Homo sapiens: one gene and its partners. The protein of the gene in region 4 interacts with the protein of the main gene of each other region in a pairwise test. Each region holds a gene or a part of one and is shown on either strand. Other genes may lie near its edges.

Region 1 (7,026 bases), on a different chromosome or scaffold from region 4:
CACCAAAGAGCTTCTCGAAGTTGCAGGTGCTCCTTCACCAATGTAATTCTCAATGCCTCAAAAAAGGGAAAGTCATCTGGCCCTCTCTGGGAATACAGTGGAGACATGAGTGTGTGTGTGTGTGTGTGCAGGTGGCATGTGATAAACGCATGCCAGCATTCCTATCTCAATAAGCCTTTGCGTTCCTTTCTCTACATTATGCCAGGGAGATTTTAGCATCTCAACCTCATTAAACATGGGCCCCCATGAGTCCCAGTGGTTCTCAACTGTCTTAATCATCTGGTGTGGTAGCTACAATTGTTGATTCTCCGATCCCATCCCAAGATATTCCAAGGCAGCAGATCTAAACTAGGGCCCAGAGATCGGCCCCCAAGCAACCCAGGTGATTCAAAGTCAGGTGATACTCAGAACAATGAGAGACAGGTTTCAAAGCTTAAGGGAAGGCTGCTAGTATTGCCCAGCTTTCCAGAAAAGCCCAGATTTCTCAGCAGTAACACAAAGAATAGAGTACATTCTTTTCCAAAGAAATACAAACCAGGGAAAACCAAAAATTAAAAGTAACCCTTTATTATCTGTTTCTGGTGTCTCCAGTGTTGGGTTCTCCAACACTTTCAGCATGGGTTTCCACAGCCCAATGCTAAGCACACAGCACATTCTCCTGTATTCCTCTATTACTGTTCATCTTTCTTTTTCCCAACCTCTTGCCATCATTACAGATCTCAAATGCTTATAAGAGGTTTCCATAGTCTTCTTAGATCATTCAACCAATAAATAACAACATCTGGTTCTTCTCATTTCTCCTCTAAGGCAAAAATCCCTTTGGCCCTCAATCATTTTGGTTGCTCTTCTTCTGCATTCCCTTCAGTACCAGGAATAAATCAGCAAATCATTATTGCTTAATGTATCTGAAGTACAAAATGATGTAGCTCCCAGGCACCAATGCAAACAACAGTCCAGAGGGGAGATTGATACTCTGCAGCTGAAGCAAAATTCATGGCTTTGATTTGAGTTCAAGGCATCACATCCTTATCTGGCTATGAGGAAGCTGCCCCACAGGAAAGCTGCCCCATGGGAAGGGAGGTTATTGTCACTGTTACATTAGTACTAGAGTAATAGTACAGTTATTAGAGTAATAACTGTACTAAAGAAAGGGTAAGAAAACTGAAGGCAGGAAGATCAGTAAATATATCTGGAAGGTAGCAAGTCCCGGAAGAAAATCCTCAAAAAGAGAGCCAGCAAATAATAAAAATTATGACAGACCAAGGCCAAATATTTTAGTTTTAACTGAGCTGTCAATTTTTAGCATTTTTTTTTAAATGTGTGTTTGGTGTTTGGTGGAGTGCCTGATTGTAATGCAGTTCTGACATCAACTTCCCAGAATTAACAAAAACTCCCAGTTGAGGGCAAAGTCGTCCACAAAACTCCTCACACTTCAGACATCAGCCACAAGTTCCTCAGGCCACCAGTACTTCTGACCAACTGGCTACATAATCAGGGCCTCCCACAACTCCCTCAGGTTCGATCATTCATTAGAACAACTCAGAGAAATCGAGTAACCCCTATACTTATGGCTATAGTTTTCTTATAAAGGATACAAGTCAGGACCAATCAAAGGAAGAAACCTACGGGACAAGGTCCAGGAGGGCCCTGAGCATAAATGTTCTATTTCTTCAGGATGCTTCACCCTCCTAGCACATCAAGGTATGATTACCTACCAGGGAAGTTCAAGCAAACTTCAGTGTCCAGAGTTTTTATTGGGGGTCCCAGTATGTAGGCACAATTGATTGAAATCACTGACCACACAACAATTCAATTTTCAGCCCCTCTTCCCTCCTAGGAGGTTGAGATATAGGAGTGATATCACATGCCTCACAGCCCCAACCCTCTAATCATATAATTGGTCTTTACACCACAGCCAGCCCTCACCCTATAACCATCTAGGAGCCCACCATGAGTCAACTCCTCCTTAGCATAAACTTAGGTGTGATCCCAGGAGTCCATCATGAATAATAAAGAAACTCCTCTCACTTGGGAAATTCCAAGGGATCAGAAGTTTCCTCCCAAGAATCCAGCACGAAGACCAGAAAAAAATCACTGTCATGTTAGTTTCTCTGATAACATATTTTCAGGTACTTGTACTCCATTTGATCCAACAAGGCCATTCCTTATAGAAAGCATAGGCATGGATGAATCTTAGGAACCTGAGATTGGAGTGTAGTGAGAACCCCCTATAATTCTGGGTTTTGAAGGTACAGCTGCTGTTTCTCACCTTGAACTTTGCAGCAAGCATCCACCAACCATTTGTGCTGCAACCTGCCACCTAAGAAGAGTAAGATCCAAAAGCGCTACAGATCTTCATTCTCTACACAGAGTTACAGTTCCAGCAAGTTCCAATAGAAATTCAAAGTCATCCCTTTCAGAATCTCTCAGTAAACAGAACCCATTGGTATCCTCTGTATACATCTGAGGAAATTCCTAGTCTGCCTCCACTTTTCTCTTTGAGAAAGAAAGAACAAAGGTAAATTAGTGAAAAAGTAAACCAAGCAGACTTTTTCTCTACATTATAATCATGTAGCCTTACCTTAGTATTTACCTGAAAAATCTGAGCAGTCACAAAAAGGATTTATTCATTCTTTAAAAAATTAATTCATTTTTAATTGACAAATAATATTCCTTCTTTCAATGATAAATCTTGAGTCCCTACTTTGCAAGCCAGGCTTAGTTGTAGGTGCTAGAGATAAACCTCATGGAGTTTACACTGTAGTGAGGGGAGGTAAAACTCAACAAAGCAGGGTAAGGAAATAAGGGTAAAAAAACACAGAGGAGTGTTTGCTACTTTGATCACCTGGCCACCAGGGAAGGCCTCCGGGATGAAGTGACATTTAGGCAGAAACCAAAGGTGGTGAGCACATAAGCCCTGCACAGATCTGGGGAAAAGCATTCAGGAGGAACCACCAATACATGCAAGGCCTTTGGTAGCAGTGGGTTTGGCCTGTGCAAAGAACAAGGGCTCTGGAATGCTGGTGCAGAGAATGAGGTGGAGATTGGTAGACTAGGGATCAGAGAGGTAGCCAGGGGTCAGATCAAACAGGACTTCATAGAAAAGAAACAGTATCTTATTATTTGGGAAAGAAACACTGCCATTGTGTGGGCATGATCAGGCATTCCTTACCCCCCTCTCTCTCTTTTTATTTTTTTTAACAGAGTCTCGCTCTGTTGCCAGGCTGGAGTGCGGTGGTGCAATCTCGGCTCACTGAAACCTCTGCCTCCCAGGTTCGAGCAATTCTCCTGCCTCAGCCTCCCGAGCAGCTGGGACTACAGGTGCACACCACCATGCCCAGCTAATTTTTGTATTTTTAGTAGAGATGGGGTTTCACCATGTTGGCCAGGATGGGTTTGATCTCTTGACTTAGTGATCCGCCCGCCTCAGTCTCCCAAAGTGCTGGAATTACAGGGCATGAGCCACCGTGCCCGACCTCCTTACCCCTCTCTTTAAGTGAGATGATGACATACTCAAAGTTAGGAAAAATATGAATGTAGCTCCAAAGAAAGACAGAAAAGACATTGGTTGGTAATAATAGACTGCTTCGGAAGGTGATTTCCAAGCCTTGATTCAGGGACTCACCTATAAAAACCCTCATGAGTCCAAAAATATATTCCTCTCACTTTCTGTCCCTCCTACACTACCAGACTGTAGTCTATAAAGTATATCCTACTAGATTATAATCACAACCTCCACCTCTTGGAGCTTCCAAGATAACCTTAGGGTGGCATAAAATTTTCAAAGGCAGTTTTTCATTTTTCTTTATAAAATTTTTCTTGCCTCCAATCACATTTTCCCTTGGTTATTTCTGTCACTGAACATCCTAGACAATCTAGTCAAACATCCTAGAGAATCTTCACTTGTGTCCTATGATAGACTTAGAAAACAAACTTATCAGCCTTGTGGCAACAGGCTGTGTCAAAATGAAATCCCACAGAAGTTGAATGAAAAGGAATAGAAACAAAAGAAACATATCACCGTTTCTTTAAGGTTGTGGGCATGGAGGTTAGCTAGTGCTTATTTTCATGGTTGGCATACTATTTGTAACTAAAAGATGCAAACTACTGCAAAAAACCTTCAAGATCAAACATTAAAATGCTGTAAATTCCTACAGCTGCACATATTAAGATAGTCTATTTTTTGGCTCTGACATTTTAAACCACCCACTTTCACTCTTATGGTTTATATTACCATCAGAAGCTCTTAATAAAATAAAGCATTATAGCAAATATAATCTAATAGGCTAAACACACAGAGAAAGAATCAGGATTTTAAAGTCCTTTCATTTGCTTAGTTTCCCCATCTTTAACATTAAAAAATCATTGGTTCTTGCTTGTTGAAGCAGACTTCCACCTGCTTACTGAATGGAATGGCACTGCGAACAATTCAGCAGTATCTTCTTCCCAAGAGAAGGGTTGGGATAAAATTAAAAAGCTAAGTTTATTTTAAACCATTCTGGACCATTTTTCAAGGGAGGGGTTATGGACATCATAGAGTTTGGTTCTGTGTCAATTCACCCTCTACAGAGTAGCTTAATGCATTTCTCTTGATTTCAGGCTTACAAACAGGTCATGGCCAGGGAAGGAAAAAGAAGCAAAAAAAAAATGTTATTGCTGCAGAGTCACAGATGTTTTGATTCTGTACCACTATGGTCCAAAAATATTCTTGCATGCCCTTGGGCATGATCTTATGAAAAGACTGAATCTGAGATTTGACTGGAAACAGAAATTCATTGTAATTCTAAATTCACTTCAAGGAACACAAAGAGATGGTCATTTGTATCAGTTAGGGTTAGACTAGAAAACCAGAGCCACCATGAGTGATTCAGAAGAAGGGATGTACTATGGGGATCTGACCTTTTACTATTGCTGGGGCTGGTTAAATAGCCTATGTAAGTGTGATGCTTCTGTGTCTATTATCCAAGTTGAAAGCCAGCAGGGCAGCAGGGCCATTCTGGAAGAGAGGGTGAATGGACTTGAAGTAGGGGGAAGCAAAGGCAAAATGGAACCCACAAGGATGAGCTAAAATACATGTCTGTTTTCCACTGCCTTTAAGGCTCCAACTTTAACAATGCAAGAGGCTTGCAAAAAGACTGGCACTCTTCCCTGCAGAGCTGCATACACACCTGCACCATGATTCCAAGTAGCTGAAAGACGAGATCTGGAGAGCACTGGAGGAGCTGAGGGCCTGGGTGCTGCTGCAAACCAACAGCATGTTCACCAACATTTCTGTGACAAACTGCAAGAGGCCTGGCAGCAACAAAACCTATGCCAACATTCTGAATGTGATCTTAGCCACTTCACTTTCACCTTCCAAATCTTGCAGAAATTTTTCTTATGGTCAGCCCTAACCCAGATCATCTTGCAAAGGCAATTCCAAGAAACATAGTCCCAACTTAGCTAAAGTGACATAGTGCAAAGCCACCACATCTTGGTAAGCTGCTTTCATATTCCACTGTCCCATCCCCTCAAAACTGGTAGAAGTAGATGGTCTGCAACCCATTTCCTCATTTCAAATTTTAGTTCATTTCTTACTTGAAAAAATACATAATTAGTATCTTTACTACCTAAGCAAGCACTTTTATTATTTATTAGTATACAAGCAACCACCTTTATAGCAAAAAGTATTATGCATCTATAAATTACATTTATTCTTAAGGAAATTTCTAGCTCTCAGTATGCGTAAGATACATTCAATGAATCAAAAATCAACTTACATTTTAATAAAAAATATGTTTGGAGTATTGCACTGAGAAAGGTCCTGTGAGGAGGACAAAAAGACAAGCTACAGAGTGGGAGAAAATATTTACCAATCACATACTTGACAAAGTACATGTATCTAGAATATATAAAGAACTTCAATACTCAACATTTAAAAAAAACACTTAAAAATGGACAAAAGACACAAAGGCACATTTACCAAACTCTTTGGTTTAATATCAGATGTTCAATAGCTTCACCCATTAGGGAATGGTAAATTAATGAGGTACATATATAGGTGTGATATCACTACATACCTATCAAAATGGCTACAGTAAAAAACAGCAACAATACAAAGTGCTGGCAGAAATGCACAGAAACTGGATTACTCAGACACTGCGGCTAGGAACATCTGGAAAACAGTATGGCAGCTTCATATAAAGCATATGAACATGCAGCCACCATATGGCCCAGCAATTGGACTCCTGGGCATTTAGAACAGAGAAATAAAAATCTATGTTTACATAAAAACCTGTAAGTGAATTTTTATAGCAGCTTTATCCCAGCCAAAAGTTGGAAACAACCTAGATGTCCCCAACAGGTGAATGGTTATACAAACTGTGGTATATCCATACAATGGAATACAACTCAGCAATAAAAAGGAACAAACTATGGATACATGCAACAGCCTGAATGAAGATCCAGAGACATGCTGAGTGCAAGAAGCCAATCTCAACAGGTTACATACTATGTGATTCCATTTATACAACAGTATTAAAATGGCAAAATGATAATGGAGAACAGATTCATGGTTGTTATGGATTTGGGTGAGGGGATTATGGATTAGGCAGTTGTTATAGATTAGGTGTCCATGATTGCAATAAAGAAGTACTGAGGATCCTTGGGATGGAATTGTTCCGTATCTTGACTGTGGAGGTACTCTCTGAAATCTACACATATGATAAAGCTGCATAAAACTAAATACACACTTAGTAAAATAAAAAAAATAGAAGTACATATAAAATGGGTGAAATCTGACTAAATGCTGTAGATTGCATCAATATCAATTTCCTGGTTGTAATATTATACCATAATAATACAGGATGTTACCATTGGGGGAAATGGATAGAGTAGAAGGAATCTCTCTATTATTACTTAAAACTGCATGGGAATGCACAATTACATTAAAAAAGTTTTTAAAACGGGTTTGAAATCTCAAAGTTTTTGCTCAAACAAGCATAATTTAAGATACAGTTAAAATGGTTTGCACATATTTAAAGGGCC
Region 2 (7,026 bases), on a different chromosome or scaffold from region 4:
CTATCGTGAATTCTGGCATGGCACAGTCCCTTTTTTTTTTTTTTTTTTTTTTTGAGACAGTATCCCACTCTGTCACCCAGGCTGGAGTGTAGTGGCATGATCATGGCTCACTGCAGTCTCGGCCTCCCAGGCTTAGGTGAGCCTCCCAAGTAGCTGGGACTATAGGCGTGCCACCATGCCCCATTAATTTTTTCTTTTAATCCCCGGAGATGGTCAGGAAACGGTTATTTTATTTGTTTATTTATTTTTTATTTTGCATTTTTTGTAGAGATGGGGCTTTGCCATGTTGCCCAGGCTGGTCTGGAACTCCCAGGCTCAAGCAATCCACCTGCCTTGGCCTCCCAAAGTGCTGGGATTACAGGTGTGAGCCACCGTGCCTGGCTGGTTGATGGTCACTTTTTCTCAAGGTTTTGGCACATCCACCTCGCCTGTCAGTCTCTCCTGTTCCAGGCAGACCTTGCTGCTCTTGGTCAAAGATTTTTCTCTAATCACACAGGACCAAAAGCCAACACTGAGTGCTGCTCTCTGAGCAATGCCCTGCTCAGTGACAATTGGCTAATTAAAGTGTAAACTGATCTGAAGGCCAGGCTCTCCTGGGATGCTTGCAAATCAGATCAAGTTTACTGCAGGCTCCAGGCTGAAAGACTATCCCCAGAATGGTCCAGTGATCATGATCCATAGCTTTGTATCCAACTCCAGGAGGAGGTTAATGAGCATCATTTACATCATTTTCATTGAATGTGCTTAACACGGAAGGGATTGCCAACAAGAAGCTCCTTGTATGGAGTCAGTTCTCTAGGCCCAGCAGTGTTATTTGTGATTGCCTAACCAGGCGGAATGAGACCTAAAGACAGTGAAATGTGTAACCTGTGGTAGATAACATTTAAAGATGCCCTGTGTTGTCTGGATAGGCCAAGTTATACTAAGGTTATAAACATCCCCCAGATCTCAAGGGCTGAACACAATGACAATTGATTTCTTTTTCACATAAAGTCAGCTAAGGGTTCAGGTGGTTCTCTAGAGTACCTGTCCTCCATGTGTCATCTTGATTGTCCAGACTGATGGAGGTTTCACCTACCTGAGACTGTAGCACCTGGAACACAATCTCTTCCATGTAGCTTGGGAAGAGAGGACTGGGCAAGGTTGAACACAGGTACTTGAAAGGCCTTGGAAATGACACACCTCGTGTCTGCTCCTGTCTCATTGGCTAGACCTAGTTATGTGACTGCCATTAACTTCAAGGAGGCATCCCCCACATCTGTGGAAGTGAGAGAGCCCAGGACGAGTGTCAACAAGGACCTCCAAAGTCACTGTTGTACTCTTGCTCCTACAGTTACTTTGACGAGCCAGTGGAGTTAAGGAGCAGTTCTTTCTCTAGCTGGGATGACAGTTCAGATTCCTATTGGAAAAAAGAGACCAGCAAAGATACTGAAACAGTTCTGAAAACCACAGGCTATTCAGACAGGTATGAATGCAAAACTGTGGGGTTGTAGTAGTGAATCCATGCATTTCTGGGAAAAAATTGCTGATAACATGATGACATGAAAACCCTTGTAAGGGGCTGGGCACGGCGGCTCATTCCCATAATCCCAGCACTTTAAGAGGCCGAGGTCAAAGGATCACTTGAGCCCAGGAGTACAAGGCTGCAGTGAGCTATGATCACGCCAGTGTACTCTAGCCTGGTCAACAGAGTAAGTCCCCCTCAAAAAGGAAAACCTTTTGAAACCTTTTGTAAGACTAGTAAATGATTTTGTTCTACTATTTCAGGAATATTGTTTTGATTTTGTTTTTTTGTTTTGTTTTGTTTTATTTTTGAGACAGAGTCTCACTCTGTTGCCCAGGCTGGAGTGCAGTGGTGCAATCTCAGCTTACTGCAGCCTCCGTCTCCCAGGTTCAAGCGATTCTCCTGCCTCAGCCTCCCGAGTAGCTGAGACTACCGGTGCACACCATCATGCCAGGCTAATTTTTGTACTTTTAGTAGAGACGGTTGCCTCACCAGCCAGGCTGGTCTCAAACTCCTGACCTCAAATGATCCGCCTGCCTCGGCCTCCCAAACTGCTGGGATTACAGGTGTGAGCCACCGTGCCCAGCCTGTTTTGATTTTAAATTACTGATTCTAAATAGGAAGTGCACATCAGAATCCTCTGTGGACCTTGAAAGAAATGTGTGTGTGGAGTCCTCTTCCCTGAAGATTCTGATCCATGGGTCAGGGGTGGCCTAGGTCAGGAAGGTTTCACCTTTTTCCCCAATTTTTTTTTTTTTTTTTTTTTTTTTAAGATGGAGTCTTGCTCTGTCACCCAGGCTGGAGTGCAGTGGTGCAATCTCAGCTCACTGCAAGCTCCGCCTCCTGGGTTCACACCATTCTCCTGCCTCAGCCTCCCGAGTAGCTGGGACTACAGGCGCCCGCCACCACGCCTGGCTAATTCTTTTGTATTTTTAATAGAGACGGGGTTTCACCATGTTAGCAAGGATGGTCTCGATCTCCTGACCTCATGATCCACCCGTCTTGGCCTCCCACAGTGCTGGGATTACAGGCGTGAGCCACCGCACCCGGCCTTTTTTCCCCCAATTTTAAGGTATTATTTACATATAGTAAAATTCATCTTTTTAAACTTACAGTTCTGACAAGCACATACATTCATGTAATTACCACCAAAACCAAGAAACAGAACAGTTCCCATCACCCCCAAATTTTCCCCATGCCCTTTGTAGTCCCCCCTCCCCTGCCCCTGGCCCCTGGTCACCCCAGGTCTGTTTTCTGGCCTTACAATTTTGCCTTTCCCAGATATCATATAAATGGAGTCATGTAGCAATTGGCCTTCCTACTCTGGTTTAACTTGTCTTAGTACACTTGGGGAAGACTCATTCATTCTTGTATTCATTCCTCTTACTTGCCAAGTTTATCCATTCACCTGCTGAAGGGCTGTCTCCAGTTTTTGGTGATTATGAATGAATTTATTTTCCAACCAGAGGACTTCTGAGAGTGCAAGGGGGTACTACTAATATGTTGGGACAACAGGTGTGACTTGAAATTGTCCCAGGTAACTGGGACATTTTATAACCTATACAATGTAGAGAGAGCAGTGTCCTATGGACATTCCAAACAATGTATTCAGTGTTTACCCAGTTGATCTGAAATGTGATATAACATATTTGAACTGAAATGTGAAATAACAGACCCCGTTTTAAACAGAAATTCCTTCAAATTTTGTATCGTTTGGGTATTTATTCTTTTTTTTTTAATTAGAATTTTCAGGCTTTTAAAAACAGCCTAAAATCCTTTTACAAAATTTACTGCTGTTGGCATTTTAAAAAATAAAATGAGTATGAAACACATTTGCTTCACCTCAAATTAGTTTAACCTAATTTGGCTGTTTTTAATTGCAGACCTACTGCTCGCCGCAAGCCAGATTATGAGCCAGTTGAAAATACAGATGAGGCCCAGAAGAAGTTTGGCAATGTCAAGGCCATTTCATCAGATATGTATTTTGGAAGACAATCCCAGGCTGATGTAAGGGTCCAGAGAGTTTCTTTGGGTGCCCCATAATGCAGGAAGGAAGTGTGGGTGTGGGCATTGTCGGGGAGGAGATCCTGAGTGAGCTGGGCTCAGGCTGCCAGATGCCCTCTGGCCTGAAAGTGCTGGAGTCAGGACTTGAACCCAGGTCTGTATAACTGATCATGTGCTTGCTACCTCAGCAAGAGGAATGTTTACAAGACAAGGACTTATCTCACAGTTGTCTTATTCCTCTCTTGGTGTTTTGAATAGCCATTATCCAGTATCTTTTGAATATATTTCAATTGTTGGTGCAGCTGTAATTTACTTAATAACTTTTAAACATAGTGAAATGAAGCACATAGATATGTTTCTTTTTTTTTTTTTGAGACGGAGCCTCCTTCTGTCACCCAGGCTGGAGTGCAGTGGCATGATTTCAGCTTACTGCAACCTCCGCCTCCCAAGTTTAAGCGATTTTCCTGCCTCAGCCTCCCAAGTAGCTGGGAATACGGCCGTGCACCACTACACCTGGCTAATTTTTGTATTTTTAGTAGAGATGAGGTTTCACCATATTGGCTAGGCTGGTCTTGAACTCCTGACCTCAGGTGATCTGGCTGCCTCGGCCTCCCAAAGTGCTGGTATTACAGGCGTGAGCCACCACGCCCAGCCAGATATGTTTCTGAGGAGTGCATATATTTATTTTCAGGTTGTTGGCTTTTCTCAGAAATGTTAATGAACTTGGCCAGGCACTGTGGCTCACACCTATAATCCTAGCACTTTGGGAGGCTGAGGCAGGTGGATCACTTGAGGCCAGGAGTTCGAGACCAGCCTGGCCAACATGATGAAACTCCGTCTCTACAAAAAATACAAAAATTAGCTCGGTATGGTGGTACGCGCTTCTAGTCCAGCTACTTGGGAGGCTGAGGCAGAGAATCGCTCGAACCCAGAAGCAGAGTGAGACTCTGTCTCAAAAAAAAAAAAAAGAAAGAAATGTTAATGAACTCATCATAGTGAAGTCTTGCTAAGCTGTAAGACTCAAGTGGAAGTGGGGAGGTTTACGTCTTTCCTCTCATCCTGAATTGCTAGTGTGCCTCTGACTATTTGGATGATGGTTTCCTAAAATGTGCTGAATGTATTTTGCAGAAATTTAAACTTCTGCAAGTGTAACATTTCGCCATCATTTCGAAAGTAGAATTGCCCCTTGCTGTTCCCACAGTCCATAAAATCTGCCTTGCTTCAAAGTTGACATTCAAGTTCAGTTTTAAAATAGTGTCATGGGGCTTGGAAAAGAGACTCTTAGAGTGGCCTTTGCTGACAGCTGGCTAGAAGCAGCACCAGGAGAGAGATGCCGCTCTCCCTCCCTCACTCCGACGGCCTCCGCACTGGCCATCGTGGCTGAGGTGTTGTATGTTGATCAGTCTGCCTGTGACCTGCCTCCCATGCAGAACATGAGCTTTGTGCTGTCCCGCAGGACCTGGCCTTGGCAGTGGCATTCAGTAACTGTTGGAAAGAAAGAGCCTGGGGGTCAAACACTTTCAAATGACAGCTCTTCAGTGATTCTTTTTGCAAAACTGCCCACAATCTTTGGAGCCTAACATTTCCTTTTCCTTGTCTTCTCTAGTATGAGACCAGGGCCCGCCTAGAGAGGCTGTCGGCAAGTTCCTCCATAAGCTCGGCTGATCTGTTCGAGGAGCCGAGGAAGCAGCCAGCAGGTAGGGGGCACTGAACAAGAGCTGGTCTCTGTCATGTCTACGGTATGAACACATTTCATCTGGATAGGACTGTTTCCTTTTCCAAGATATTTTAGCAACCATTATTCGATGCTCTGATCTCTGCTATAAGTCAGGTAGAGCAGAAGTTACTATTCCAGGCTTCACACGTAAGGAGACCAAGTCATGAAATTAAAGCAACATCCCATCATTGCCTGGCAAGTCATCCTTCTGAACACTGTCATAGAGGAGTGTTTTCTAGCTGAGTGCGGCTGTGCTATGAAATACCATGTGCTATCTTAGCCTTAGAGGTGGACAGCGCCGGGCTCCCGTGTGATCCTCACCACCCTCTAGCTGTGAGCCCTTGAGGATGTCATGGTGTCTTTAGCCTCAGTCTCCTCCTCTGTAACGGGGGTGGATAAAACCACCTCACAAGGTTGTCATGCGGCTTAAATGAGCAATGTGAAGTGCCACCAAGTGTCTGGCACACAGCAGGCCCCAGGGGTGGGCAGAGGCAGATAGAAACATGTGGCTCTAACAGCATCTGTCTTCTGGGGAAGACAGAACACAGCTTTGGGAGTGAGCAGGTGGAGAGGAATTGCCTGTCTCCCATATCCCTCTTCAGGGTTCAGACCCCAGCGAGGAGGTGTCTGGTCCTCCCAGGGCTGGGATGGCCTAGGATGGGGCGGCCTGTGAGCCCAGTGGTGGGCCTCAGAGCGCCGGCCCCTCTGCTTCGACTTCCCCTCCCCCTGACTGAGGGATGCCTTGTGAGAGTACCCTACAAAGGCCTCTGCCAGGCCACAGTGGGGAGGAGGGGCCCTGTGGTTAACGTGAAAGGGGCAGCGTCCTCTGAGGTCATTTCAGGAAGCCATTTATCAGCAGGAGAGCCAAGGGGAGGGATGACTCTCAGGAGCCAGGCATTCCAAGCCTGGCACCCTCAGCATCCCTAGGCCTAGAGGAGCTGGCTGTGGCTCTAAGTGACCAACCTAGGCTATCACTTGGCCTTACAGCCACAGAGAACAGCTGTTTTCAGAGTCCAAAGAGAAACAGCTCGAGAGAGGTCTGAGTGTCGGACATTCTGGGTTGTGGTTTGGGGATGTTATAGAGACACACTGTGGCCCTCGGGGTGCAGTGGGCACTGCCAAGTTGCTGTGCTGCAGTGGAGGGAGAGTCCTAGCCAGGTGGCAGCAAGTGAGACAAGGGTTGTGTTGGCAGAGCAGCTGGCAGAGAGCCAGGCAGCCCAAGGAGCCAGAGGCCAGGGCCAGAGTGGACAAGCCCCGGCACATCCGCTGCCAGTGAGAGTGTGAGGGTGCCTGGGGGTGCGCAGCCAGGGCCACGGCTCCCCTGAGCCACTCTTTGGTCAGGAGCACACCCTGTGCCTCACCCCAGACTTGAGCAGAGGGGCCTCGTTTCCCTTGGGCAGTCAGTTACTTGCTGACTGGGCATTTCCTGGCAGTGAGTCTTGGTGGGGGCAGGTGAGGCTCATTGGCTTGTTCCATCTCCAAACTTTCAGTGTCCTGGCCTGTTGTCAGGGCAACTTCCTTTTGTGACCACCCCTGGCAGAGAGGCACTCCGGCCACCTTTGGAGACCTCCAGCAGCCCCACAGGTCAGTGCTGGGTCGCCTTGTAGGGGCCCTGGCACAGCCAGCAGCCGGTCCAGAGACCTGCATTGTTCAGTCCCCTGACTCCCTGCAATGGATGCCTTTGTAATTTAAATCAATAGAAGTTTTACTCTGAAGCACTGTTTGTTTTTTTAAAAAAATATTTGGAGATCAAATGAGAGCAGCCTTTCCAGTTACTGAACAAAAATAGTGGCAGCCTGTG
Region 3 (7,083 bases), on a different chromosome or scaffold from region 4:
CTCCCAGGCTTAAGCAATCCCCCCACCTCAGCCTCCCAAGTAGCTGAGACTACAGGTGCACACCACTACGCCTGGCTAATATTTTAAATTTCTTGTAGAGATGGGGTTTCACAGTGTTTCCCAGGCTGGTCTCAAACTCCTAGGCTCAAGCAGTCTGCCCACTTCAGCCTCCCAGACTGATGGGATTACAGGTATGAGCAAGAGCCACCACCCTCTGGCCTTCTTAGATTTTTAGATCTTAGATTTTTTTAGCTTGCTTTTTTCATCCTTTTCCTATTCTGTTTAATATATCACTGATAATCTCTTAAAAATCCTAGAGTACTCTGGAGTAATCTACAAATCCCTGGAATTCACTGGATGTTTACACTGACCTTCTGGAAAAGTTATTAAACAAATATAAGATAATAATGGAGAAAATGGTCATTGAAACATCAGTGAAGGCAGAGTGAAGCCCAGAGCACTGGCAGTGGAAATCATTATGGTAATGGTGCATCTTGAAAAGCTAACCAGTCACTCTCCACTGCCTGTGGTAAAGCAAATACGCCTTACAAATCATTTCAGAGCCTGCCTTGGGCCTTCCCTAGCCCATATCTTTAGTTCCAGCTTCTACTCTCTTGGCTCTTTCACCATTGTCCAGCCCCTTAACTTCAACAGGACTCTATTTATATTGAACAGATTTGCTGTTCCTAGAAGGAGCTATGCTGTTTTGCTTCAGGCACTTTCATAAGCTGTATTCTCCTTCGGGAATATCCATCACCCAACTCTCTGTGGAATTCCTATTTATCTTCTCTATTTAGACACGATCTTCTCTAGAATGCTTTGCCTGACCTTCTGCCCTTCTGCCATATCTGGCTATAGGCTCCTGCTCCGTATTGGCCAAATGTTTCAAGACAGTTGCAATCACTCATTTATGTGTCTGCATATGCTATTGGACTGTACGCTTCTCGAGTGCAGAAATTGAGTCTAGTTTATATACTAAATGGTTTACATGGGGGACTAGCCTCAAGAAGGATGCATGTTTGATGACTGAAAGAACAAAGGACTACATAAATGGATGAGCAGGTTGACTTCTCATTTCATTCCAAAGTGGTTAGCCCATTTAGACAGCAATCTACTGCAGGAAAGAAGGAAGGTTCACCTATCATTTATTGAGCTTATTATGTGGCTGGTGCTGTGCATCAGGGAACAAATCTTTGATGTAAAGACCTTTTAGTTTAATAGAAGAGAACAACATTTACAGTAAGCTGAGACAAATGACAGGGTAAAGGTAAATGGAGGTGTTAGAGGAGTTCGCAAGAACACCTTATCTGTGCCTATGGGGGGCTGGGTAGGGAGTTGAGGGATTGGCAGGGAGAAAGTGATATTGAAATGGAGATCTAAAAACTAAACAGAAGCTATCCAGGAAAAGAGAGTATGTAAGGGTATTCCTGGTTGGAGGAACAACATATACAAAAGATTGGATACAACAAGAGAAAAGCCCTCCTGGGTCACAGAGTGAACTTAAAAAGAGCCAGGAGCTGGTAAACCACATGGACAACTTTAGACCTTATCCTGGGGAATAATGAAGAGCTATAGGAAGATCCTAAGTTTTAAAGTAAGATGATGAAATTTACACTTTAGAGAGCTCTCAGCCAAGCACAAGGCTACAAAGTCCTTGTTCTTTTTAAACCAGCTTTATGAAAGGTACCATTTTTGACATTTGCTTAGATCACAAATTGGAAAGTATTTTTCATGTCCAGTAGGAGGAGCCAAAGTCTCCAGGTTCTTTCTAACCATAGCAGGGCGATTCTTGGCCCTAGGTTGTCCTGGGAGCTGTCAACTTCAGCACCTCTCATTTATCTTCCAGTGGCTCAACATGGAGAAATGACAGGAAAAACTCTACTTGGAATGCGAAAGGTCATTGTGAGAAAGAAACTAATACTTTCCAAATGAATAGCATAATGGCATGCCATATTGATCTTTACTCTAATTTTGTTTTAAATTGTAATGGATGCCTCTCACACTCATATTCTTAAGCCATGTAGCAATACAGGTACCAGTGAGTCATGCCTGACACTCATCACTAATCTATCTAAGCCTATTTCTACTCTACAATAAATAAATCAGAGCAGACTCAAGCTGAACTTGATTTTCAGATAGATGAATATGTTTTATTTCCAATGGTAAATATATATATGTATTAAAAATAATCAAAGGGCCCAGCAATTACCCATTTTAATGTAACAACAGCTGATGTTACTGCCTTGAATGATTGCATTCATTTGTTCCTTTCTGGAATAAAAAATGAAGGAGAATAGACAAACAATTCCTGTTGGTGAATTTGCACAAAACAGTATATTCCAACAGAATTTCCCGTTAACTGCCATTTATTTCTTCTATCATTATTGATAATTTGCTTTTAAATTGAGAATACCTCTTTTACAACCCATCTCATCTCCCTGCATGGCTAGACAATTACATTTAAATTCGGCGGTTTTCCCATTGTGAACAGTTTCTGGGGGAAATGATTATGATGTTACCAACCCAGATTTATGGTTTCATTTTGCTATCACTGAAGGATGAGACTAGTATAAAGAAAAAAAAATTGCTTACATACAAATATATTATTATCAAAGAGAATCCTAAGGAAACATATGGTAAAAATCAACCCAAATTGCAAAATCGCTGGGACCAATGATAAAGATATCTTTCTGGATTTTGCAAACTTACTTTTTCAAATGATGATTAAATATTGCGTGCTTTAAAAAGTAATATAGTTATAGGCAGAAGTTCCCTTTCTTTTATTCTGAGGTTGAAAGAAACCGCAGCCCGATAGGATTGCAAGAGGAACCCTTAAGGAATCTGCTCCTTGATGGGCGCTAGGAAATACACGTACATCTAGTACAAAGGAATGCACATCACATGGCCCCCTGTTTTGGAAAGCTTACAGCATTTCTTATAAGAGGATCCATGGTATAAGTGCAAACACAGTCACATCACAGGATGGGAAAATGAACAGGCGCCTCAGATCAAGTGCTCAAGGCTGGAATCTGGCCTTGTCCAATGCCACCTGCCCTTCAGAAGGCAGGGTGGTGCCACATAAAATGAGGTAGACTGCCTGGGGAGTCCTGGTTCCTTGCCAGCTATGTGACCTTGAACAAATTACAACTCACTGAACCTCAGACTGACTTTATTGTACAACAAAACCCCCTGGAATATTTGTGGAAAAAAGAGGAAGGGAGAAAGGAAGGAAGGGAGGAAAGGAGGAAGGAAGAAAGGGAGGGAGGAAGGAAGGGAGGGAGGGAAAGGAAAAGGTAGGGGAAGAGCAGAGTTTCTCACTCCAGTCCAGAGTGGGACCCAGGAAGGGAGAAATATTGCTTTAATCTCTCTAAGCATCTGTGAAATGGATAAACCTCCAGTATCTACTTCCAGTTGTTGAAAAGACTCCATGTAAAGTGCTTAAAACAGCATCTGGTGGAAAGTAAATGCTTATTAAGTGCTAGTGTGTATTAAGGCGTCATGGGGCTTCTGGCTGTAAGACATCTGCTAGGAGGACAATCCCTAGACCCCTTCAGCGTCCATTGCGGGAGTAGGTGGCCAGGAAGGGGGCAGGACAGGAGAGGCCCAGCTGTGCGGGGTGGGGGCGTCCCAGGCCAGCCGCACCCACCCCAGCCCTGCATCCCATCCAGCCTGGAGAACTTTTTGAATCTTGGATAGGGCTCGATCTCTGCCTGGCCGGAAGATTTGAAGACTTGCCAGAAAACTTCCTCAGAGAAGAAATGGACTGGGGCAAGAAGCTGCCTCCACTTGGCGTCTCTAGTGGGGGATTTGTCTACTTTGATTGGGGTTGGGAGGAGGGCGCTGGTGCTCAATGAGTGAGCCCACCTGGGGACTACCAGGACGAGGACGGGCGCAGGTGAAAGTCCTGGGCTCATTGCCCCAGCATCCAACTTTCACCCTCTGTCCCCTTTAGGCCAGGAGACCAGGGTACCGGGTCGCGTGTCCGCCGCCGCCGCCCGCTGGAATCCAGGGCTGCACGCGTGACCGCGGCGGCGGCGGCGCTGGCGAGGGGAAGGGGGAGGGGGCGCTCCCTCGCGCACCAGATTATTTTTGGCTCCGCAGCCGGGGCTGCTCGCTGCTTGTCGCGCGCTCACACACACACAGACACACACGCACACACACACATGCACACATTTTCTCGCGCTCTCTCCGGCTCTCCTTTGTTTATTTTCTAATCTATATTTTTACTGGAAGATTTCCTCTTTATTCTCTCCCGCCCTCCTACAAGCGCTCTTGCTGGCCGTCTGGGTGCACACACCGCTCCCTCGATCACCCCAGCCCCCTTCCTGGTCTCCCGAGCGCGGGGTTTGAAGGTCACCTCCTTTCCAGTCCCCGTGCGAGCCGCGCTGCCGCCGCCTCCTCCAGCCAGAGTCGGTGGGACTGGCTGCGCTGCCCTGAAGTGGTTCTCCAAGCAGCGCGGAGGGTGGCGGACGGCGGACGGAGCCCAGGGGCCGCGTCGGGTGGGGAAACCCGAACTCGCGGAGGGGAATCCCTCCCCCTCCGCCCCAGCCCCCCAGCAGCACCCGCGGTGGGGCGGGGGCGCTCTGCCAGCCCCGGGAACAGCAGAGGCGGCGGCACTGGCTGGACCCACGCGCGCGCCTCCGGGGCTGAAGAAGGAAGGAGTGAGCCGAGCCGAGCACCCCACATCTGGAGGGGACAGCCAGCCGTGGGCCCCGCCCCGGCGTCCGGAGCAGGAGAACTCCGAGCTTCTTGCCCAGGCAGAGAGAGCAGGAGCGGACCGCGCGCCCGGGATTGAGAGTCCTTGCGCTCCAGACCCCCACCCAGTGGCCGCCAGGGTCCCCGCCTGTCCGGACCCTCGCCGCGCCCAGGCAGGCGCGCCAGGGCGGGGCTGACCTGCCCGCGAAGTTGCGGACAGTGCGTGAGAAACCAGCACCCCCTTCCGCCGCCTCCAGCTTATGGTGAGTGTGGCTGGGGGTGCAGAGAGCGCACGGGAATTCGGGGGTCTGGGGCCGAGAACGTGACCGCAGCCGGGCTCGCCGGGAGTTCTAGGTAAGTCCAGGCGGAGTCATTGCCTCTGCACCCACCCTGACCTGGTGGGTCAGGTCCAGAAGGTCTCATGGAGGGAAGCGCTAGGTCCCCGAGAACTGGCCTCCTCCTAGCGCCAGTCTGGGCGCTCTGGACGGGAACTTTTTCAGGGTGTGTGGAAAGATCTCGAGGCGTGTCCCCCCCTACCCCCAGGAGGCCGAGACCCTGAGCCCCCTTGTGCGTCGCTTCCAGAAGCACGTCCTTCCTTGCCCCAGAGCGCCCCTCCGAAGCATCCAGGCTACCTCGTCCGTCCTCCTGGGAGCGAGTCCTAGGTGCCAGGAGCAGCGGGAGCCTGCCTGCGCACTTTGATTAGTCTCCCTGGCCGGCTGCAAGCGTGCACTCAGCGCGCCCCCGGACCGCTGCCTCCGCCCGCAGGGTGTGCAGGAGGAGGCATCTTAGTGACCCGGGAGGGTGTTTAGGTGCCCCGAACCCCTTGTGGGAGGAGGGGAAGAGAAGGCTCACTTATGTGGAGAAAGCGCCGCTGTGTTTACTGGCACTGGAATCGATGCCCCGCGGTGCCACCTCGACCCCAGGGGAGGGGGCCAGCCGGGAAACCTGCGAATGGGAAACTCCTACTGTGCCCCTGGTTCCTGGGAGCCTTAGAGAACCTTCACCCCAGAGAAGGAAACACAGGGGTAGCAGATCTTAGCCCTGTGTTGTTGTGCAGGCCAGGGGGGGGCTTGTCAGCTCCAATCAACCAATTGTCCAGCTATGGAAGCGAGGGCGGGGCTAGTGGGGCGCCGCTCCCATCTCCCCACCGCCCAGGAGGCCACTTGGCTGTGAGCTCCTGGAGCCTCCCTGGCGCCAGCTGCGGGGACCAGGTGTCACGCGGAGCCCGGAAGCTGTCCACTCAGCAAGGGAGGGGAAGACCCCGATCTAACCTTGTCCTGGAGCCCCCAGCTCCATTCCTTGCTGCCAGGGAATGGTCAGGGGGCTGGGAGAGCTCATCGCTCCTGTGTGGGCCAGAGCTGGGGTGCACCTGCTGGCACTGGAACATCTGGGGTGCGGCTACTGAAGAGCTTGGAAATCCTGGTCAGGCAGTCCGGGCAATTGGCACCCCAAAGGCGGATCTTTTCAGTTGAACTTGAAAAGAAGTGGGGGAGTGTGGTGAAATAGCTTTGTTGAGTTGAAACATCATGTCTCCTAACTTGGGTTTTCCTTTATTAGAATAATGATTGTTTATTTTTATTTTTAAACTCCGTTGTGCAGAGAGGCCTGGCCTTGACAGCCCAAGTTTAGGACATGCCCCAGCCTGCCATCCCTTCCCTGCCCCCTGTCCTAGTTCATCTCCCCTCCATTTATCATTTTATCTTTGTTACAAAAGAGAGAAAAAAAAGATGAGAGGGCCTGGATTCTTTCAATTTTTAAGTGACCACAGAGGCCCCGGCTGGAGCTACTGGCAGATTTATTTTTAGCTAAGATCTTTTATGTTCAGAAGCAAAGGACCTGGGGCCTGTGAAGGGTAAAGGTGGTGCTGGCAGTGGCTGTGCTGGTAAAAAGTGGGGCTGACTCAAAACCTGTGTCCTCTTTGAGCTCGTCAGGGAGGCCCTCCGTTTGGAAGAATCCCCTGGGCTTTCCTTAAGTTAGCTTATGGTTGCCTCGGGTTAGGAAGAAAAGTCATCATTCCTCGCGGTAGTGGAAGTGACACCTTAGGGGTCCAGAGAGTGGAGCTTTATGGCTCAGAAGAGCACAGGGCTTCTGGATCCGTTATCTGCCAGCTGTGTGACCTTGGGCAAGTTGCTTTACCTCTCTGAGCTTCGGGTTGTCACCTGTAAAATCAGAGTTTCAGTCGTAGTTCTGTCCTCAGAGGGTTTGGGGGTAAATTACTTAAAGCACTAAACATTTAGAACAGTTTGGCACATGGTAAGTGCCTGAATTCTATGAGTTTTGTTTCTTTATTCTTTCAAGTAGATTCCTCTAATTTTTGAGCCTTGTAGCACCGAGTGGTACAGGAAAGGCAGGTGGCTTGCCTTATACACACACGTTTTCTTTTAAGTA
Region 4 (7,026 bases):
CTCCTGACCTCAGGTGATCCGCCCGCCTCGCCCTCCCAAAGAGCTGGGATTACAGGCATGAGCCACCACCACACCCAGCCTGATTTACATTTTTACAAGCACCCTGGCTACCACGTGGAACGTGGTCTGGGCAAGAGAGAGGGAGGGAGGCCCACGTGGGGGCTGTTGCTTTCATCCGGCGACATAGGAGGGTGGCTTGAACCCAGGCGGTCGCAGTGGGGATGGAGGGATGTTGAATATCTTGGGATGTGGAATTCTGAGACTGAGCCAGCAGAATCTGGCAACGAGGAACAGGAGGGAGAGGAAGAAGCACGGCTGGCTTCCGTGTATTTGTCCTGAACAACTGGGTGTTTTGCCACGTCTTTCTCTGAGTTGTGGGAGAGGGAAAGAGAAACAGGCCGGGTGTAGGCAGGGGAGCATCTGACATTTTGCTTTAGCCACGATGAGTTGGAGATGCCGGGGAGATGTCCCAGCAGGGAGGCCAGGGAGGACTCTGGAGCTCAGAGGAGAGGTCAGGGCTGGAGGTTAAAATGAAGGCATCGTCAGCAAACAGGTGTATTTAAAGCCATGGGACTAGATGAGATCATCCAAAAAGCTGGCATAGTTGGAGGAGCTGGAGGGCCCAGGACAAAAACCCTGGGCGCTGATCCTCACTAGTCAGATTCACGACAGCTGCCACTTGTTTGATGCTAACTACCAATCAGGTGCTGAGTGAAACCATGTACACACCTTTCCTGGAATGCCCACCACAAGGGACTCTTGGCACCATTTTGCAAATGAGGAAACTGAGGTGCAGGGAAATAGCAAGTGACAATCCCTGGGGTGGTTCCCCTGACCCCAAGGAGACCTTGGATGACTCTCACCACCATCATTCATTCCTTTGATGTACATTGACTAAGAGCACCTGCTAAGTGCCACATTCGAGTTGGGCAGTGGAGATTCAGCAATGGATGGGACACACACGTCATCCCTGCCCTCGGGAGCACAAGGACAGAAAGGTGCAGACAAGCAAAGTGAGGGCTGGGCATGGTGGCTCACGCCTGTAATCCCAGCACTTTGGGAGGCCGAGGTGGGTGGATTACCTGAGTTCGAGACCAGCTTGGCCAACATGGCTCAACCCTGTCTCTACTGAAAATACAAAAAATTAGCCAGGCGTGGTGGTGGGCTTCTGTAATTCCAGCAACTTGGGAGGCTAAGGCAGGAGAATTGCTTGAACGTGGGAGGCGGAGGTTGCAGTGAGCCGAGATCGCGCCACTGCACTCCAGCCTGAACCACAGAGCGAGACTCTGTCTAAAAAAAAAAAAAGGAAAGAAAGAAGCAGCAAATTGGGCTGGCCGTGGTGGCTCATGCCTGTAATCCCAGCACTTTGGGAGGCCGAGGCGGGTGGATCACTCGAGCCCAGGAGTACAAAGCTGCAGTGAGCTGTGATCTACAGAACACCACTGCAGATCCAGCCTGGGTGACAGAGCGAGACCCTGTCTCAAAAAAACAAACAAACAAAAGAAGCAAACCCTTCAAAACCCCATATAATTACAAATTATGAAGGAAAAGAATACGGGTACCTACTTTAGATGGAGGAGGGTCAGGAAGGACTTTCTAATGAGATAAAATCCAAGCGGAGGCATGAAGATGGGAAAAGGAATGTTCAGGGCAGAGGAAAGGCTGTGATAACACCCCTGAGGTGAGAACCGTCTTGAGTATTCTCAGAAAATAAAATTTCCCGTTCACTGGGGGGCAGAAGGTGCTGGGAGATAAGGTTGGAAAGTGACTACAGCCAGATCACACAGGGGCTCCAGTGCCAAGTGGAGGAGCCCAGGCTTTATTCTTAGGACAATGGGGAGCCATGGGTGATGTCTGAGCAAGGGAGTGACTCTCTGTTTCAGGAATATGTATCAAACACCTATCCTGTGCCAGGTGCTGATCAACGCACTGGAGATACTATATCTGAATAGAACAAAAATCCCCATCTTGACATCCTAGAGCTGCACTGTCTAATATGGTAGCCATCAGCCACATATAGCAAATTACATTGAAATTAATGAAATGGAAAATCCACAAGCCACATTTCAAGTACTCAGCAGCCACCTGTAGCTTGTGGTTCCCCCAGCCACCTCTGGACAGTGCAGATCGAGATCATGGCATCGTAGCATTTAGTGGACAGCATTGCTCTGCAAGGAGGAGAAATAACACAATGAGTAAATATTTAACAATAAATATATAGCAGGTCGGATGATTGTGATAGGTTCTCTGGTGGAACAGAAAGCAGGGGAGGGAGATAGGAATTGCCTACTAACAGGTATTTGTATTTTAATTGGGCAACTAAGGAAGGCTTCCCTGAGAGGCGACATTTAAAGGAAGTGAGGGAGTGAGCTATGCAGATACTTGGAGGACAGACTTGCTGGCAGAGGGAACAGCAGTGCAAAGGCCCTGAGGTGGGAAGATCACTATTGTGTTCAAGGCAAGACAGGGAAGCCAGCGTTTGGCTGGAGCAGAGGGAGAGAAGGGGAGAGTGGGAGGAGAAGATGTCTGTGAGATGATGGGGCAGTGCTTGCAAGGCCTGGTGTGCCACGTTGAGAACTTTGGCTTTGATTCTGAGTGAGATGGGAGTCATAGGAGGGGCTGAGCAGAGGAGGCACAGGACCAACTTACATTGTTAAAATATCTCTGGTTGCTTTGTGGAGGATGGACTGTGGGGGACCAGAGACAGAGCAGGGAGCCCAGTGAGGAGGCTACTGCTCTAGTTCAGGTAGGAAGTGAAAAGGCAGCTCAAACCAAGATGGTAGCCGTGGGAAAGGTGAGATGTGGCCAGATTCTGGATATGCTTCAGAGAGGCAAAAGGAATTCTGGACAGCTTGGATGTAGGGCATGAAATAAAGAGAGTGAAGAATAGCCCCCAAGATTATTCTGAAAGGATGGAATTGCCATTTACCCAGCTGGGGAAGACTGTGGGAGGAGCAGGCCAGCGATTCATGACTTCCCAGCCCTCTCTGAAGCCTCAACTGCAGCCCAAGGGCTCCAGGTGAGACCCAGCCCTCTTCCTTCCCAGGAATCTTCAGGTCTTCCTGGGGAAGCATAACCTTCGGCAAAGGGAGAGTTCCCAGGAGCAGAGTTCTGTTGTCCGGGCTGTGATCCACCCTGACTATGATGCCGCCAGCCATGACCAGGACATCATGCTGTTGCGCCTGGCACGCCCAGCCAAACTCTCTGAACTCATCCAGCCCCTTCCCCTGGAGAGGGACTGCTCAGCCAACACCACCAGCTGCCACATCCTGGGCTGGGGCAAGACAGCAGATGGTCAGTAGTGGGAGGCTGGTGGGGAGCAGGCTACTGGCTACTTGGGGAAGTGTGCCAAAGGATGGGGAGTGGGAAAATTGGTGAGGGGCCATGGGAAGATGGGCTAATGGTGAGGACCAATGGGACAGGGTTTCAATGGGAGAAAGGTCAAGGGGGAGGGAGAGTGAATTTGGGAGCTGGGCCAGTGAGTGAACAGCCAATGGAAAATGTAGACCAATGGGTGAATAGCATGGGAGAGATGGAACATAAGATGAAGGTTCAATAAAGAGGGAAGGTCAGTGGGGAGATGCTAATCAGGAAGGATGTCAAAGGTCAAAGGGGACTGATCAGGATTCATTGAACAGCAGGAAGGAATAATGGAGAAGGAACTGATGGAAGAAGAGAAACCAATAAAGCACAAAAGCCAACTGAAGGATGTGAATTGAGACAGTGAATGGGGGTATAGCTGATGGAAGAGGGACTAAGGGGAAAGGATCAATGGTCCAGAGGAGTCACTAGAGGAAAAAACAGGTCCAATAGATCAGCAGGATCCATGAAGGTGGGCCTGTGTGTGAAGGGCCAATAAGAAAGGTGAACCATTGGATGAAGGGCCAGTGGGAAGGCAGAGACAATGGGGGAGGATGCGGCAAGTTAGAAAAGGACCAATGAGGGAGGTGGACCATTGGATGAAGGGCTAATAGGAAGGGAGAGCCAGTGGGGGATGGTGAGGCCAGTTAGAAAAGGACCAAGGAGGGAAGCAGACCAATAGGAAGAGAGAGCCAATGAGGGAGGGCAGGGCCAGTTAGGAAAGGACCAATGAGGAAGGTAGACCATTGGAGGAAGGGCCAATAGAAAGGGAGGATCCATGAGGGAGGGTGGGGACAGTTAGAAAAGGACCAATGATGGAGGTGGACCATTGGATGAAGAACCAATAGAAAGGAAGAACCAATGGGAGAGGGCATGGCCAGTTAGGAAAAGACCAATGGTCACAGAGTGACCAATCAAGATGAATCAATGGGCAGGAAGTGTCCAATGAAGAATGGACTACTGATCAGGAGGGGTACAGTAGAGGAGGGCGTAACAGAGGAAGAGTCCTCCAGGTCAACTGAAACTACTGAAGAAGGTGGGACCAGTGGAAGAGAGAAAAGTGGAGGAGGGACCTAAGAGAAAAGGAAAACCAATAGGAAATGAGGACTCCTGGAGAAGAGACTATTAATGAGGAAGACAGCCAATGGGGGGGAAGAATGATAGAAAGAGGGACCAATTAGGAGGCAGGGACGATGGTAATGAGATGTAAGAATGAGAGACAAACAGGAAGAGGGGTGCCAATAGAAAAGAGGGACCAATAGAGGATGGAGGACTTATAGGGGTTGGGGGGTGACTGGGGAGGATGAGGGGAGTGCAAGGCCTGGGCTGAGTCTGGCCCATCTCTCCCCTAACAGGTGATTTCCCTGACACCATCCAGTGTGCATACATCCACCTGGTGTCCCGTGAGGAGTGTGAGCATGCCTACCCTGGCCAGATCACCCAGAACATGTTGTGTGCTGGGGATGAGAAGTACGGGAAGGATTCCTGCCAGGTGAGGTGACCCGGATCTGCCACTTACACAGCCAGGGACAGGACGAAGTCACAAAAACATGGCCAGACACAGGAAGAGAGAGACACAGGCCAAAAGAGAGCTTTACAGAGACAGATAGAGACAGGCTGAGGGAGAACCCAAGCCTTGAAAAGAAGAGACTTAGTTCAACACACAGAGACACAGTCAGGGATATGCAGAGATATAAAGACACAGCCAGCAGAGACAGGAAGTGCAGAGACAAGGATGGAGGCCGCGGGATCAAGAACCAGAGAGGCCAGGAGCAGCGGCTCATGCCTGTAATCCCGGCACTTTGGGAGGCCGAAGCAGGAGGATCACCTAGGGTCAGGAGTTCGAGACCAGCCTGATCAACATGGTGAAACCCTATCTCTACTAAAAATACAAAAATTAGGATGGGCACAGTGGCTCATGCCTGTAATCCCAGCACCTTGGGAGGCCGAAGCAGGAGGATCACCTGGGGTCAGGAGTTCGAGACCAGCCTGATCAACATGGTGAAACCCTATCTCTACTAAAAATACAAAAATTAGGATGGGCACAGTGGCTCATGCCTGTAATCCCAGCACCTTGGGAGGCCGAAGCAGGAGGATCACCTGGGGTCAGGAGTTCGAGACCAGCCTGATCAACATGGTGAAACCCTATCTCTACTAAAAATACAAAAATTAGGATGGGCACAGTGGCTCATGCCTGTAATCCCAGCACCTTGGGAGGCCGAGGTGGGTGAATAACCAGGTCAAGAGATTGAGACCAGCCTGGCCGATATGGGGAAACCTCATCTCTACTAAAAATACAAAAATTAGCTGGGCGTGGTGGCAGGCGCCTGTAGTCCCAGCTACTCAGGAGGCTGTGGCAGGAGAATCACTTGAACCTGGAGGCGGAGGTTGTTGCAGTGAGTCGAGATCATGCTACTGCACTCCAGCCTGGCAACAGAGCAAGATTCCGTCTCAAAAAAAAACCAAAAAACAAAAATTACGCAAGCATGGTGGGACACACCTGTAGTCCCAGCTACTCGGGAGGCTGAGGCTGGAGAATTGCTTAAACCCAGGAGGCAGAGGCTGCAGTGAGCTGAGATCACGCCACTGCACTCCAGCCTGGGGACAGAGCCAGACTCTGTCTAAAAACAAAAAGAACCAAAGAGAAGTAGTAAGGAAGCAGATGGTGTGAGGGGACTGTCCTTCCTCAAACAGAGCCCCCACGAGTCCTGCTCAGAAACGACCAGGCTCTGGAGGAGGGAGACACTAGCTGGGGAAAGGGGACTCCCTCCCGAATACTTTAACTTGGGTTTCCTCCATTGTCATCCATCCAGGCTCTCCTCTTTATGCCAGAATGACTAATGCACTGAGGGATGTGCAGAGACCAACCAAGGGGGAGACACAGGCAGAAACGGAGACACAGGCAGAAACAGGGACAGAGACAGGGAAAGCGATACATAGCAAGTTGGACGCAAAGAAAGGGCAGGTGGGCGAGACTGTCCTCAAGACACGAGGTGGAGAGGTGTCCCTGGACAGAATAGTGCCAGGCATATCTCTCCCTGGGCCCTCCCTACCTCTCCCACCTGGGTCTTATCGTCTCCTCCTCCCCCTCCTCCCCCTCCCCATCCTCCTCCCCCTCTCCATCCTCCTCCCCCTCCCCATCCTCCTCCCCCTCCTCCTCCCCCTCCTCCTCCCCCCTCCTCTCCCTCCTCCTCCTCGTCTTCCCCCTCCTCCTCCTCCTTCTCCTCTTCCTTCTCCTCTTCCTCCTCCTCGTTCTCCTCTTCCTCCTCCTCCTCTTCCTCCTCCCCCTTTTCCTCCTCCTCCTTTTCCTCCTCTTCTCCTCCTCTTCCTTCTCCTCCTCCTCTTCCTCCTCCTCCTCTTCCTCCTCCTCCTCTTCCTCCTCCTCTTCTTCCTCCTTCTTCTCCTCTTCCTCCTCCTCTTCCTCCTCCTCCTTCTCCTCTTCCTCCTCCTCTTCCTCCTCCTCCTCCTTCTCCTCTTCCTCCTCCTCTTCCTCCTCCTCCTCTTCCTCCTCCTCTTCCTCCTCTCCTTCTCCTCTTCCTCCTCCTTCTCCTCTTCCTCCTCCTCTCTCTCCATCGGTCTCTACACCTCTGCCTCTCTCCACACCTCTCAGTCTCCATTCTTAAATTGTTTCTCTTTCTTGCTCTCTATGTTCCTCTGCATCTTGGC

The links.
Region 1: the proteins of KLK6 (region 4) and TMTC1 interact in binary tests that used the Homo sapiens proteins (3 or more experiments, as listed by UniProt).
Region 2: the proteins of KLK6 (region 4) and ARFGAP3 interact in binary tests that used the Homo sapiens proteins (3 or more experiments, as listed by UniProt).
Region 3: the proteins of KLK6 (region 4) and RBFOX1 interact in binary tests that used the Homo sapiens proteins (3 or more experiments, as listed by UniProt).

The regions. Positions count from the first base shown.
Region 1 is NC_000012.12:29,773,917-29,780,942, forward strand, and holds part of TMTC1 (protein O-mannosyl-transferase TMTC1), read right to left. Parts: intron 1-7,026. UniProt on the Homo sapiens protein: Transfers mannosyl residues to the hydroxyl group of serine or threonine residues.
Region 2 is NC_000022.11:42,805,252-42,812,277, reverse strand, and holds part of ARFGAP3 (ADP-ribosylation factor GTPase-activating protein 3), read left to right. Parts: intron 1-1,333; coding exon 1,334-1,465; intron 1,466-3,387; coding exon 3,388-3,511; intron 3,512-5,114; coding exon 5,115-5,205; intron 5,206-7,026.
Region 3 is NC_000016.10:6,014,944-6,022,026, forward strand, and holds the start of RBFOX1 (RNA binding protein fox-1 homolog 1), read left to right. Parts: upstream 1-4,080; 5' UTR 4,081-4,955; coding exon of another isoform or gene 4,956-4,958; 5' UTR 4,959-5,049; intron 5,050-7,083. UniProt on the Homo sapiens protein: RNA-binding protein that regulates alternative splicing events by binding to 5'-UGCAUGU-3' elements. Regulates alternative splicing of tissue-specific exons and of differentially spliced exons during erythropoiesis.
Region 4 is NC_000019.10:50,959,570-50,966,595, reverse strand, and holds part of KLK6 (kallikrein-6 isoform A preproprotein), read left to right. Parts: intron 1-2,085; exon of another isoform or gene 2,086-2,168; intron 2,169-2,929; exon of another isoform or gene 2,930-3,040; intron 3,041-3,046; coding exon 3,047-3,294; intron 3,295-4,715; coding exon 4,716-4,852; intron 4,853-7,026. UniProt on the Homo sapiens protein: Serine protease which exhibits a preference for Arg over Lys in the substrate P1 position and for Ser or Pro in the P2 position.